Linked DNA regions of Homo sapiens. The protein of the gene in region 2 interacts with the protein of the main gene of each other region in a biochemical or structural test. Each region holds a gene or a part of one and is shown on either strand. Other genes may lie near its edges. The genes, in order: RFFL, MICALL1 and EHD3.

Region 1 (3,749 bases), on a different chromosome or scaffold from region 2:
TCCACTATGTATTGTGTATATCCATGTACAGGACACTTCACATTTATTATTTAATTTGAGGCTTACTTTATTTACTCCTGAAGCACCTGAGGTATTAATTAAGACTACCAGCATAAGAATCAAAAAGCTCTGCATTTTTATTAAGCCTCCCTCCCTTATTTCTTGCAGTATCACCTTGGGTGTGTAATTTAGCCTCTCTGGTGCTCAGTTTCCACATCTGTAAAATGGGGGTGATAACAGTATCTACCTCATGGGGTTGTTGTGAAGATTAAGAGAGAACCCATTTAGCATATCTAACACAAAATGAGTCCTCAACAAGTGTAAGCTGTTTTATTATAGCTAGGAAATATTACCTAACGGTGACAGCCAGGATTCAAATCCTAAACTGTAATTATTTCTGCATGAAGGTTATGGTGGTGGTGGTTGTTACAATTAATATTAATTTATTGAGGTGCTTCTATATGCTAGCTTGTCATTTAATTCTCAAAGCGACATTGCAAAGTAGGTATTAGTGTTCTTCCCTGATTCACAGACAAAGCAACCGAGGCTTAGGGAGATCAACTGTTGTATTCAAGGTCAGGCAATAAACAGGAGAGCGGGTATTCACACTCAAGGTCTGTTGGAGGCTAATGCCCATGATCACATTCTTTCCACCAGGCCATACTGCATAGCTCAGTTCCATTCAAGTACAGAGCAGTTCTGAGTCAAGGGCCTGGCTTCCATCTCCAAATTCCCCACCCACTGCTCCATCGACACAGGCTCCCCACTCCAGGAAGGCCCACTCAGAGTGCTGGGAACCCAGTGGTGCTTACAAGCATATCCAAGACAAATATTTAGACAGCAACGGGAGGCTGTCTGGACATCAGGGTACTCTCGTTCCTGAAAGCACAGAGTGTCTCAGTTAGGCAACAAGAGCGCCTGATGGGCAAGCTGGTACTGCCTGGCAGCAGCTAGTCTGGCAGTCGCTGACAACACAGGAAGGCTTACTCAGCCCACAGGAAGCAATCCTCGGCCTCTCACCCCACAGGCTGAGTGAGCACAGTGACATCCGGCTGAGCTCTGTTCTGGCCAAGAGCATGTCACATCCCCAACAAGAGAGGTAATTCCTGAGCACACTGGGATTGGCCTGGAGGGCACCCTCATTAATCCTTTAAAGAAGTTAAAAACTTTTCATCCTGTGTTGACTTAAGTAGTAACTTAAATATTTCTGGTCCATCTTTTCGAAATATAGAAAGATATTCAAGCTAAAAAAGAAAGCTCAAGAGACAAGATTCTCATAGTCAAGATCACAGACACTCTGGGCTGAAGTAAATGTCTGCATAGTTAAGATAGTTATATAAGTTTTGTCTAAGTATCATTCACATAGTAAAGGGAAAAGGAAATAATATTTACCACCCAGTTTTGGCTATTAAGACTTAGAAGGCATTGCAAAGGGACATATATCAAGCTCCCTAATTCTCCATACAGTTATAACCAAACAATACTGTTCAGAGATGGACTTAAAAGGATGCATGGCTGCACTAGCATTGTAACGGTTCTGGGACCAGTAGCCATGCAGGCAGAAAATGGATGTTTTCAGGTATTTGGGGTTCATTCACATCTAAAGCTTTTCTATTGGGAAATGAAGTCTGTTTAGGATGACTGAGACTGAAACAAAGAGGCTTCAATGCCATAAACCTGTGGGCCTGACATGGAATATTACTTAAGTCGATGCAGTCTGACAAGACCTAGCTTGACACAATTATAAAGCCTGCGTTGCTCAATCAGCCAGATCCAAACAACTCTCTATTCTTTCTTCAAATGTGTGTGGCTTGCTGGATGCAAGATCAGAATGCAGACAACAACCTAGCTTCTATGCACCCGCTGGCTCACAGGGAACTCTGAAATAAGCTGGCATCTGAAACACACCCTACAGGAACAGGATAGGGCTTGAGGCTAAAACCCCAGTTTGCAGTGGCAGAAGAAAACAAGAAGAAAGGAAAAAAGGGCTGTCAACAAATGCAGGCAGAATGAGCAAAGGACACACTTATGTATAAATTCTGCCGAATGGTTCAAAACAACTCAGTAACCAGGTAGCATGAAAGATGAATTAGTGGAGGCAACCAACATGCCTGCAGAAATGCCCAGGGTGTACTGAGATATCCAGCATCACAGAACTGGCCGTGGCGCCTCAGGCCGACACCACCCTTCAAGGATGCCGTGTGCAGGGTTCTGCTGGCTCCCGTTTGCCAACTGCCCTTCCCTTGCTCCTACTCCCTCCCACCCTATTCCCTGGAATATGGGAAGTATTACATGAGAGAATGTATATAAAACCTTAGCACAAAGTGGATGCTCCAGAAAAGGTAACACGGTTACCTTTTTCTTTCCCCTTACCAGCACCTAAGACCCAGTCCTCTCTTAACACTCTGAGATCTGAATATCACTTCCATGGCTCCAAGCATAACCTCATCCTCCAACTGGTCCAACTAAAGAGGCTGGGTGCCAGACTCCCTCCAAAACCGTCAGGGTCGCTGCTAAACCACAGGGAGGTATTACCAATAGAGATGGGGTATTTGGCTTGTGGCAAAAGTACAGCCTGCCATTTCTCTTTAGGACTGAAAACTCAGGGAATGCAAGGGCCACATCTTACTTATATTCTGTCTATAAAGTCCTGAATGTTATCTGTGCTTTGCACCCAATAAGCATTCAGAAAGTACTGACCATAATGAAGAATAAGGAAAAGAAAAAGATAGTAGGATCCATGGAATCATTTCAATTCAAGCACTTCTAGAAAAAGACATTTTGAAAGCCCCTGGGTGTTAAATGCCAAACCCTTAAGATAAGAATGCTGATCCACTTAAGCATGAAATTACAAATGAAAAATTCTCATAGATGAAAACACCCTTAATATTCACAAAATTCACTGTAAATTGCACAAAATTAACTCATACTTTTGTAGCAAGAAAATATTGTAGCAAGAAAATATTGTACCAATAACCATCTTTTACCATCCAAACTGGAATTTTTCTTCCCCTCCAGAAGCTCTTGTTACACACACTTTTCTTTTGTCACATCGTATGGTGTGCACTGTCCTCACCTCCCTGTCCAACTGCAAGCTCCCCGTTAAGCAGCAATGGCCTTCTTCATCTCTGCCTCCCTAGCCCAGGCAATTCCTGATACACAGTAGATATTCAGTAATTCATTTTCCAATAAGTAAGAAAAAAAGCACCTTATTTTAATCATTGCCATGCTTTTCTAGGCACCCAGGCCTGTAACTGTCATCTTCTACTCGACATGCTGAATGTCTTCTGGGAGGGGCTTTGGAATCAAGGACCTGGGTTTGAATCCCGGCTCTGTCATTTAATAACTATGTGATCTTGAGCACTACTGAAGTCAAGGGAAAAGAATGAGTATTTTAATATCTCTCATGCTATTTGTCAGGAATTTAACACATTCAATGTTCTTCTTAAATTTTAAACCCTAAGCCCTAGTTTCTCATATGTAAAATGGGATTTGGGAGATTCTAAAACCTATATCATAGCTATTGTGAGGATTAAATGAAATAAAAAAATTTAAATTCCTTAAACAGTCCTTTGCACATAGCAGATGGTTTAAAAGTATGATTTCCTCTCAAATTTCCCATGATCACCATTTTAACATCATATCCTATCACTTATTCTGAGCTGCAAACCTCTCATTCTGCAGAAAAATGCAGAATGCAGGAGTTCTTTATCCAGGTGAGGGTTTACCTTCTGCCTAGTCATGCTTGA
Region 2 (3,749 bases):
GAGCCAAAGACACAGTCCACGCCTCAGGCCAGGCCAGCCCTGCCCTCCTACCAGCGATCCCAGTGCACCGTTGCTCAGCCCTGTGTGGACAGAGAGGGCATCTGCTCCTTCCTCCCGTAGGACTCTCAGCTGCCGCTGCTTTTTTTTTTTTTTTTTTTTTTGAGACAGCGTTTCACTCTTGTTGCCCAGGCTGGAGTGCAATGGCATAACCTCGGCTCACTACAACCTCTGTCTCCCAGGTTCAAGCGATTCTCCTACCTCTGCCTCCCGAGTAGCTGGGATTACAGGCATGAGCCACCACACCCAGCTACTTTTTGTATTTTTAGTAGAGATGGGGTTTCACCATGTTGGCTAGGCTGATCTCGAACTCCTGACTTCAGGTGATCCACCCACCTTGGCCTCCCAAAGTGCTGGGATTACAGGTGTGAGCCACCACGCCCAGCTTAACTGCTGCTGCTTATTTCAGGGAGGAAGAGGAAGACAAGATGTTGGAAGCCATGATCAAGAAGAAAGGTGAGGCCCTTGCTGGGGATGAGGCTGGTGAGCACTTGAACTTCGGCATTGGGGTTGGAAGGGAGGGACTGGTTGAAGGGAGGGTTGGAGTGGGCACTACCAGGATGGCTGTGCACAAACTCCGCAGCCTCTGTTGTGCAGAGAGGGCTGTGTGTAGCAAGAGAGGCCAGCATACAGCCAGGAAGGCTGTGGCTTAGGCTTGGAGGGTAGCCGTGGGATGCCCTGATGCCTACAGAGACGACTGTGGTATATGGGAGGCATCTTCCCAGGGTGGATTTGCCCTCAGCTGTGCATTCCCCCTTGAGATCTGCAGCTGGTTTTGTTGGAGTCCGTGGGCCCAAATAGCAGTGCTTCCTGGGGACCAAGTGGTGCTTGAAACAGTTAAAAGAGTACTGGACAGGAGATCAAGACCATCAGGGCTAACACGGTGAAACCCCGTCTCTACTAAAAATACAAGAAATTAGTCAGGCGTGGTGGCGAGAGCTTGTAGTCCCAGCTACTCGGGAGGCTGGGGCAGGAGAATGGTGTGAACCCGGGAGGTGGAGCTTGCAGTGAGCCGAGATCACGCCAGTGCACTCCAGCCTGGGTGACAGAGCGAGACTCAGTCTCAAAAAAAAAAAAAAAAAAAGTACTGGACTGTAAGTCAAAGGATTTTTTTTCTTTTCTTTTTTTTTTTTTTGAGACAGAGTCCCACTCTGTTGTTTAGGCTGGAGTGCAGTGGTGTGATTTTGGCTTACTGCAATCTCTGCCTCCTAGGTTCAAGCAATTCTCCTGTCTCAGCCTCCTGAGTTGCTGGGACTACAGGCGCATGCCATCACACCCAGCTAATTTTTTTTTTTTTTTTTTTGAGACAGAGTCTTGCTTTTGTCACCCAGGCTGGAGTGCAGTGGTACGATCTCAGCTCACTCAACCTCCGCCTCCCAAGTTCAAGCAATTCTGCTTCAGCTTCCTCAGTAGCTGGGATTAGCTGCCACCACACCCGGCTAATTTTTGTACTTTTAGTAGAGATGGGGTTTCGCCATGTTGGCCAGGCTAGTCTTGAACTCCTGACCTCAAGTGATCCGCTCGCCTCGGCCTCCCAAAGTGCTGGGATTATAGGTGTGAGCCACTGCGCCCGGCCCTGGCTAATTTTTTTGTATTTTTAGTAGAAACGGGGTTTCATCATGTTGACCAGGCTGGTCTCGAACTCCTGGCCTCAAGCGATCTGCCCACCTCGGCCTCCCAAAATGCTGGGATTACAGGCGTGAGCCAGTGTTCCTGGCCAGGATTTGGGTTTTGGTCTTGGTTTTACCAGTACCTCACTTTGTGGCCTTGTGGTTAGGTCTTGACTCAGGCCAAGTCAGACTACTTGAGTTCTAGTCCCAGCTCTGGCACTTATGAGCTGGGTGACTTTGAGCTGGCCACTCTACCACTCTGGTCTCATTCTTCATATCTGCAGAATGCGGGTGAAAATGGCACCCCCTCACAGGTGTGTGCTGGGATTACTGAGATAATGTGTAAAACTTAGCTGAGGGCCCTGGCCCTACAAAGGGCTCAGTTGGTATTAGTCAATTTCAAAGGCCTACATTTTCCTTGTCTATAAAATTAGGGGCTCAGACAGATGATTTTGAAGGTTTCTCTTGCTCTGACAGCGTTTGTGTTGTAAGTAACAGAGCTGTGGGCACCAGCCTGGGTGAATCCAGCCTTTTAAAGATAAATGGGGGCCAGGCGCGGTGGCTCACGCCTGTAATGCCAGCACTTTGGGAGGCCGAGGCCGGCAGATCACGAGGTCAGGTGTTCGAGACCAGCCTGGCCAGCATGGTGAAACCCTGTCTCTACTAAAAATACAAAAATTAGCCGCGCATGGCAGCGCTTGCGTGTAATCCCAGCTACTCGGGAGGCTGAGGCAGAAGAATCGCCTGAACCCAGGTGGCAGAGGTTGCAGTGAGCCGAGATCGTGCCACTGCATTCCAGCCTGGGCGACAGCACAAGTCTCCGTCTCAAAAAAAAAAAAAAAAAAAAAAAAGATAAGTGGGGCCAGGCACGGTGGCTCACGCCTGTAATCCCAGCACTTTAGGAGGCTGAGGCGGGCTCATCGCCTGAGGTCAGAAGTTTGAGATCAGCCTGGCCCAACATGGTGTAACCCCGTCTCTACTAAAAATACAAAAATTAGCTGGGTGTGGTGGCACACTTCTGTAATCTCAGCTACTTGGGAGGCTAAGGCAGGAGAATTTCTTGAACCAGGAGGCAGAGTTTGCAGTGAGCTGAGACCGCACCATTGCACTCCAGCCTGGGCGACAGAGACTCTGTCTCAAAAAAAAGAAAAAGAAAAAGATAAATGGATGCCATGCTTCAGAATTCCTGGATTCTAGGCCGAGTGTGGTGGCTCATGCCTGTAATCCTAGCAGTTTGGGAGGCTGAGGCGGGGGGGATCACGAGGTCAGGAGATCGAGAGCATTCTGGCTAACAGTGAAACCCCATCTCTACTAAAAATACAAAAATTAGCCGGGGCGTGGTGGCACCTGCCTGTAGTCCCAGCTACTCGGGAGGCTGAGGCAGGAGAATCGCCTGAACCCGGGAGGCGGAGGTTGCAGTGGGCCAAGATCGCGTCATTGCACTCCAGCCTGGGCGACAAAGCGACTCAGTCTCAAAAAAAAAAAGAATTCCCGGATTCAGCAGAGCTCTTACATGTGCTGACCATCTTGATCTTTCCCCAAACACTGGAGGTGGGGAGGGGGAGGATGGGCCCCATCCTCTAGGTGAAGAGACAGAGGCTGGGAAAGGTGAGTGTCTTGTCCCTCCCAGGCTCCACACAGGAAGTGGTGGGGCTGGGCTGAGCCCTGCTGCCCATGCCCAGGCCTGTGTCACTGGGTCTAGCCTGCCCTGGATGTACCCCTCTTCTCCACTTTATTAAGTGCTCCCCTCTCTGTGCTGCAGAGTTCCAGAGGGAGGCTGAACCTGAGGGCAAGAAGAAGGGGAAGTTCAAGACCATGAAGATGTTGAAACTGCTAGGAAACAAACGTGATGCCAAGAGCAAGTCCCCCAGAGACAAGAGCTAACAGCACGAGAAGCCAGTTGGGGACTGCCCCCTCCTGGAGCAGCTCCTGGGCTGTGCTCTGTTTGAAGGGGGCGCCCTGCTCCCCTCAGATCAGTCAGGAGGAAGATGACTAAGGGGAGGGATCCTCTGGGTGATGGCCTCTTCCTCCTCAGGGACCTCTGACTGCTCTGGGCCAAAGAATCTCTTGTTTCTTCTCCGA
Region 3 (3,749 bases), on a different chromosome or scaffold from region 2:
ACTCATCATTTAATGTCAGGGTCAAATGCCAACTTTCCCACAAAGGCCTCGTCAGGCCTGCTCTTCCTCTTGCCTGGGTTATCACTGGCTCTTTCCAAGCCTGTGCCCACTGGACTGGATCAGCCTTATATTCCCCCACAGAATAGAGCCCAAGGCCGCTAGGGGCCTGGTGTCTGTTGAAATAAAACACGAATTCTATCCCTTAGTAAGATACCTGGGAAGGAGGCAGGAGACACAGCCCCTCCTGTGGCCACATTTCTTTCCTTGTCAATGTCTGCTCTCCAGGCCAGACACCAAGTCACTCTGGAAATGCAGGATCTTGCCTCAGTCACCTTCATTTTATTCATTGAAATCACAGATTTAGAGAGAGATTCCTGACCCCTTAATAGTATCACCTTTTATGTGCATGTTATTTGTTTCACAACACCTTCCTATATATTTTCTTTATAATTTTTTTTTTTGTAAAATATATGCACATGGTAAAAAACAAACAAACAAAAAACAAAACAAAACAAAAAACCAAAACATGGTCCAGCAAGGCATAAAATGAAATAGGAAGGTGTTCCTCTTCTCTATCCTTCTGCCCTGCTCAATTCCACTTCCTAAATGGAACCACTGTAGGCCGGTTACAGGCTCACACCTGTAAACCCAGCACTTTGGGAGGCCAAGGTGGGCGGATCACTTGAGGCCAGGAGTTTGTGACCAGCCTGGCCAACATGGTGAAACCCTGTCTCTACTAAAAATACAAAAATTAGCCAGGCGTGGTGGCGCATGCCTGTAACCCCAGCTATTCAGGAGGCTGAGGCGGGAAAATTGCCTGAACCCAGGAGATGGAGGCTAAAGTGAGCTGAGATCATGCCACTGCACTTCAGCCTGGGCGACAGAGCAAGACCTCGTCTCAAAAAAAAAAAAAAGGTAACCACTGTAAAGATTTATATATTTTTTCCTTTCTCTCTCAGATCTTCTTCACACAACACACAACATTTGCAGGAATGGATTATTTACATTTTATCACTTTCTAGATGAAGATAATAATATTCAAAGAGGTGTCTTTACTCAAAGTAAACCACCCCCACCCAACCTCACCCACACCACCTGGTTTCAATACATTTAACAATGGAGTTAATGAGACTTGCTGGGTTTGATTAATGACATAAGGGCGCTCAGCTCTCAGGAATGCACCCAGCATATGATGGCAATCACTTAAATTCTGTTATCATAATAGGCTATATGCTATTACATATAATACAATACACTATATCATTATAAGCACAATTATCCCAAAATGGCATTAACCACTAAACCTGTACTCTTCTCTTGTGATGAGCCCAGTTTCCTCTTGTCTCCCCCTGGCTTTTCCCTCCTCTCCCCTGGGGTCCAGCTCCTCCTCTCTGCCTTCAGATAGGACGATGCTCCTCAGCTGACTCACTAACACTGCAAACTCAATGTGTCCAAAATCAAATTCCTTGCCTACCCCCTTGCTCAGATATCCCTGCTTCTCTTCAGCTCCAGCGACTCATTCTCCTGAATCATGCTCATCCCACCCCCTCCATTTATGCATTTTAGCATTTTGGGCATCCAGGACCTCCTTACTCAGTTCCAGGTATAAGAGACACCCCTGGACTCCAGGACACCTGCCCCACTGCACCTTACCACCACGACCTCCTCATTCTTCCTAAAGGGACCTCAGCTTCATTCCCAACATAAACCAAGCCCCATGCCTGGGCCTCTCTCTCTGCCAGGCCAAGTTCCCAAGATTTCTCAGCGTGACCCTTCCTCTGCTCCCTACTCTGGGCGCACACCTTGGCCACTCACAGTTCCACATTTCATTCATGTCGTGGTCTCCCTGTCCCTGTCTTAGACTGTTATTGACTCCATGCCACTACAAGAAAGGTCAGAGACAAGTTCATAGGTTTATAAAAAATATTATTTGGGGCCAGGCACGGTGGCTCACGCCTGTAATCCCAGCACTTTGGGAGGCTGAGGCAGGTCAATCACCTGAGGTTGGGAGTTCGAGACCAGCCTGACAAACATGGAGAAACCCTGTCTCTACTAAAAAAAAAAAAAAAAAAAAAAAAACACAAAATTAGTCGGGCGTGGTGGCACATGCCTGTAATCCCAGCTACTCGGGAGGCTGAGGCAGGAGAATTGCTTGAACCTGGGAGGCAGAGTTTGCGATGAGCTGAGATCGCGCCATTGCACTCCAGCTTGGGCAACAAGAGTGAAACTCCATCTCATCAAAAAAAAAAAAAAAAAAAAAATATATATATATATATATATATATATTTGGGATAAGAGACATCGAGAATCCTTTGGGCAATGAGCCTCAACTTCTACAATGAAAAATGGCCACAGCAGATGCCTATTCCATTCACTAAACAATTAAGTAATCAAATGAAATAAGACATAGTAACACTATCACTAACTAACCTGTTGGTTACTATGTGCCAGGCACGAAGTGTTTTCTGTTCACTATCCCACTTATTTCTCCTTTAACTCCTATTATCCTATTTACAGATGGGAAAAATTAGAAACAAGTAAGTTTTGTAACTTGTTCAAGAGCCACAGTATTAGGCAGGATTTGAACCCAGGTCTATCTGAAGGCAAAGCCCATATTCATTACCTCTACTCTAAAAACCTCCAATTAGAAAAAGTAGTTTTAAAATTATTTTCAAAGTATTTACCATGCACATGTGAAACTGGATTTATCAGTGTAATAAGTGTGAGCAGGGGATCAGCCTGCATTCTGGTTAAACAGAATAATTAATGTGAAGGCCCAGATTAGTTTGCCAAGCATTCCTAGAGCTTTCTCCATTCACATCATCATGATGATCTTGGTATCTGCAAGGCTGAACTTGTCCCGGGGGAAGAGAGGTGACCTGTGCAAGGTCATTCAATTTAGTAGAAGAGTTAGTGCTCAAACCCAAGGCTTCCCTCTTAATTCCAGGGTTCTTCCCACCAGGTAGAAACAATATCCGTGAATAGAAAAGAACCTTCGTCTGCCTCCTTCCAGTTGGATGCAAATCCCAGCCACTGAATATTTAGGCAAATACTGGGAACTATATGGAGCATCCTCCTCCACTTTTACTAGGGGTAGGTGCAGGGTAGGGGAATGTGACCTGAGTCATTGTTGTATCCTTCCCTGCTCCCTGATAAGGAGGAATCAACCCAGCATTTGCAGCTGCTGCATCTCACAACTGACTCAGTTACACTCTCAGCAAGCAAGGGACAATCTAGGTATGGAAAGATTGACAGGAGACTCTAGGCACCAAGCATCCCAAGACCCTGCCTACTGTTCTTTCACTCCCCATACCCCAAGAAGAAAAGAGAGCACCTGAAAGTGTTGTGTTCCCTCCACACTCACCTGTTCAAGAAGGCGTTGCCAAAGGCGTTGAGTTTCCTGAAGGGTTTCTTGGGATCCACCACCAGGGCGTTCCCAGGGATGATCCCCTCCATGTCTCCCTGCATCACCGCAATGAAGGAGTCTGTGGTGGGCTCAGGCCCAATCCTCATGCCTGGGAAGTCCTGTTCCAGCAGGTACCTAGCAGGAAGAAGCACAGTCCTAATGCAGGCGTTCTGCGCAAAGATCAACACGGCATGTCTACTATAAGGCAGACAACATGCGAGTCAGAGGGGAGGGCAGGGCCACCGCAGCAAGATCTCATGGCCGGGAGAAATGCCTGCTGGATAACAAGTCCAAAGAACTTTGTAGAGGAGGTGGAATTTCAGCTGAACTTAAAATATTCTGT

The links.
Region 1: of the proteins of MICALL1 (region 2) and RFFL, one has a biochemical effect on the other in vitro, tested with the Homo sapiens proteins (one study listed by BioGRID).
Region 3: the proteins of MICALL1 (region 2) and EHD3 form a complex in vitro, tested with the Homo sapiens proteins (one study listed by BioGRID and IntAct).

Annotation. Positions count from the first base shown.
Region 1 is NC_000017.11:35,021,975-35,025,723, forward strand, and holds part of RFFL (E3 ubiquitin-protein ligase rififylin), read right to left. Parts: intron 1-3,749.
Region 2 is NC_000022.11:37,937,280-37,941,028, forward strand, and holds part of MICALL1 (MICAL-like protein 1), read left to right. Parts: intron 1-466; coding exon 467-513; coding exon of another isoform or gene 514-540; intron 541-3,429; coding exon 3,430-3,551; 3' UTR 3,552-3,749. UniProt on the Homo sapiens protein: Lipid-binding protein with higher affinity for phosphatidic acid, a lipid enriched in recycling endosome membranes. On endosome membranes, acts as a downstream effector of Rab proteins recruiting cytosolic proteins to regulate membrane tubulation.
Region 3 is NC_000002.12:31,244,066-31,247,814, reverse strand, and holds part of EHD3 (EH domain-containing protein 3), read right to left. Parts: intron 3,542-3,749; coding exon 3,365-3,541; exon of another isoform or gene 2,963-3,364; intron 1-2,962. UniProt on the Homo sapiens protein: ATP- and membrane-binding protein that controls membrane reorganization/tubulation upon ATP hydrolysis. In vitro causes tubulation of endocytic membranes. Binding to phosphatidic acid induces its membrane tubulation activity.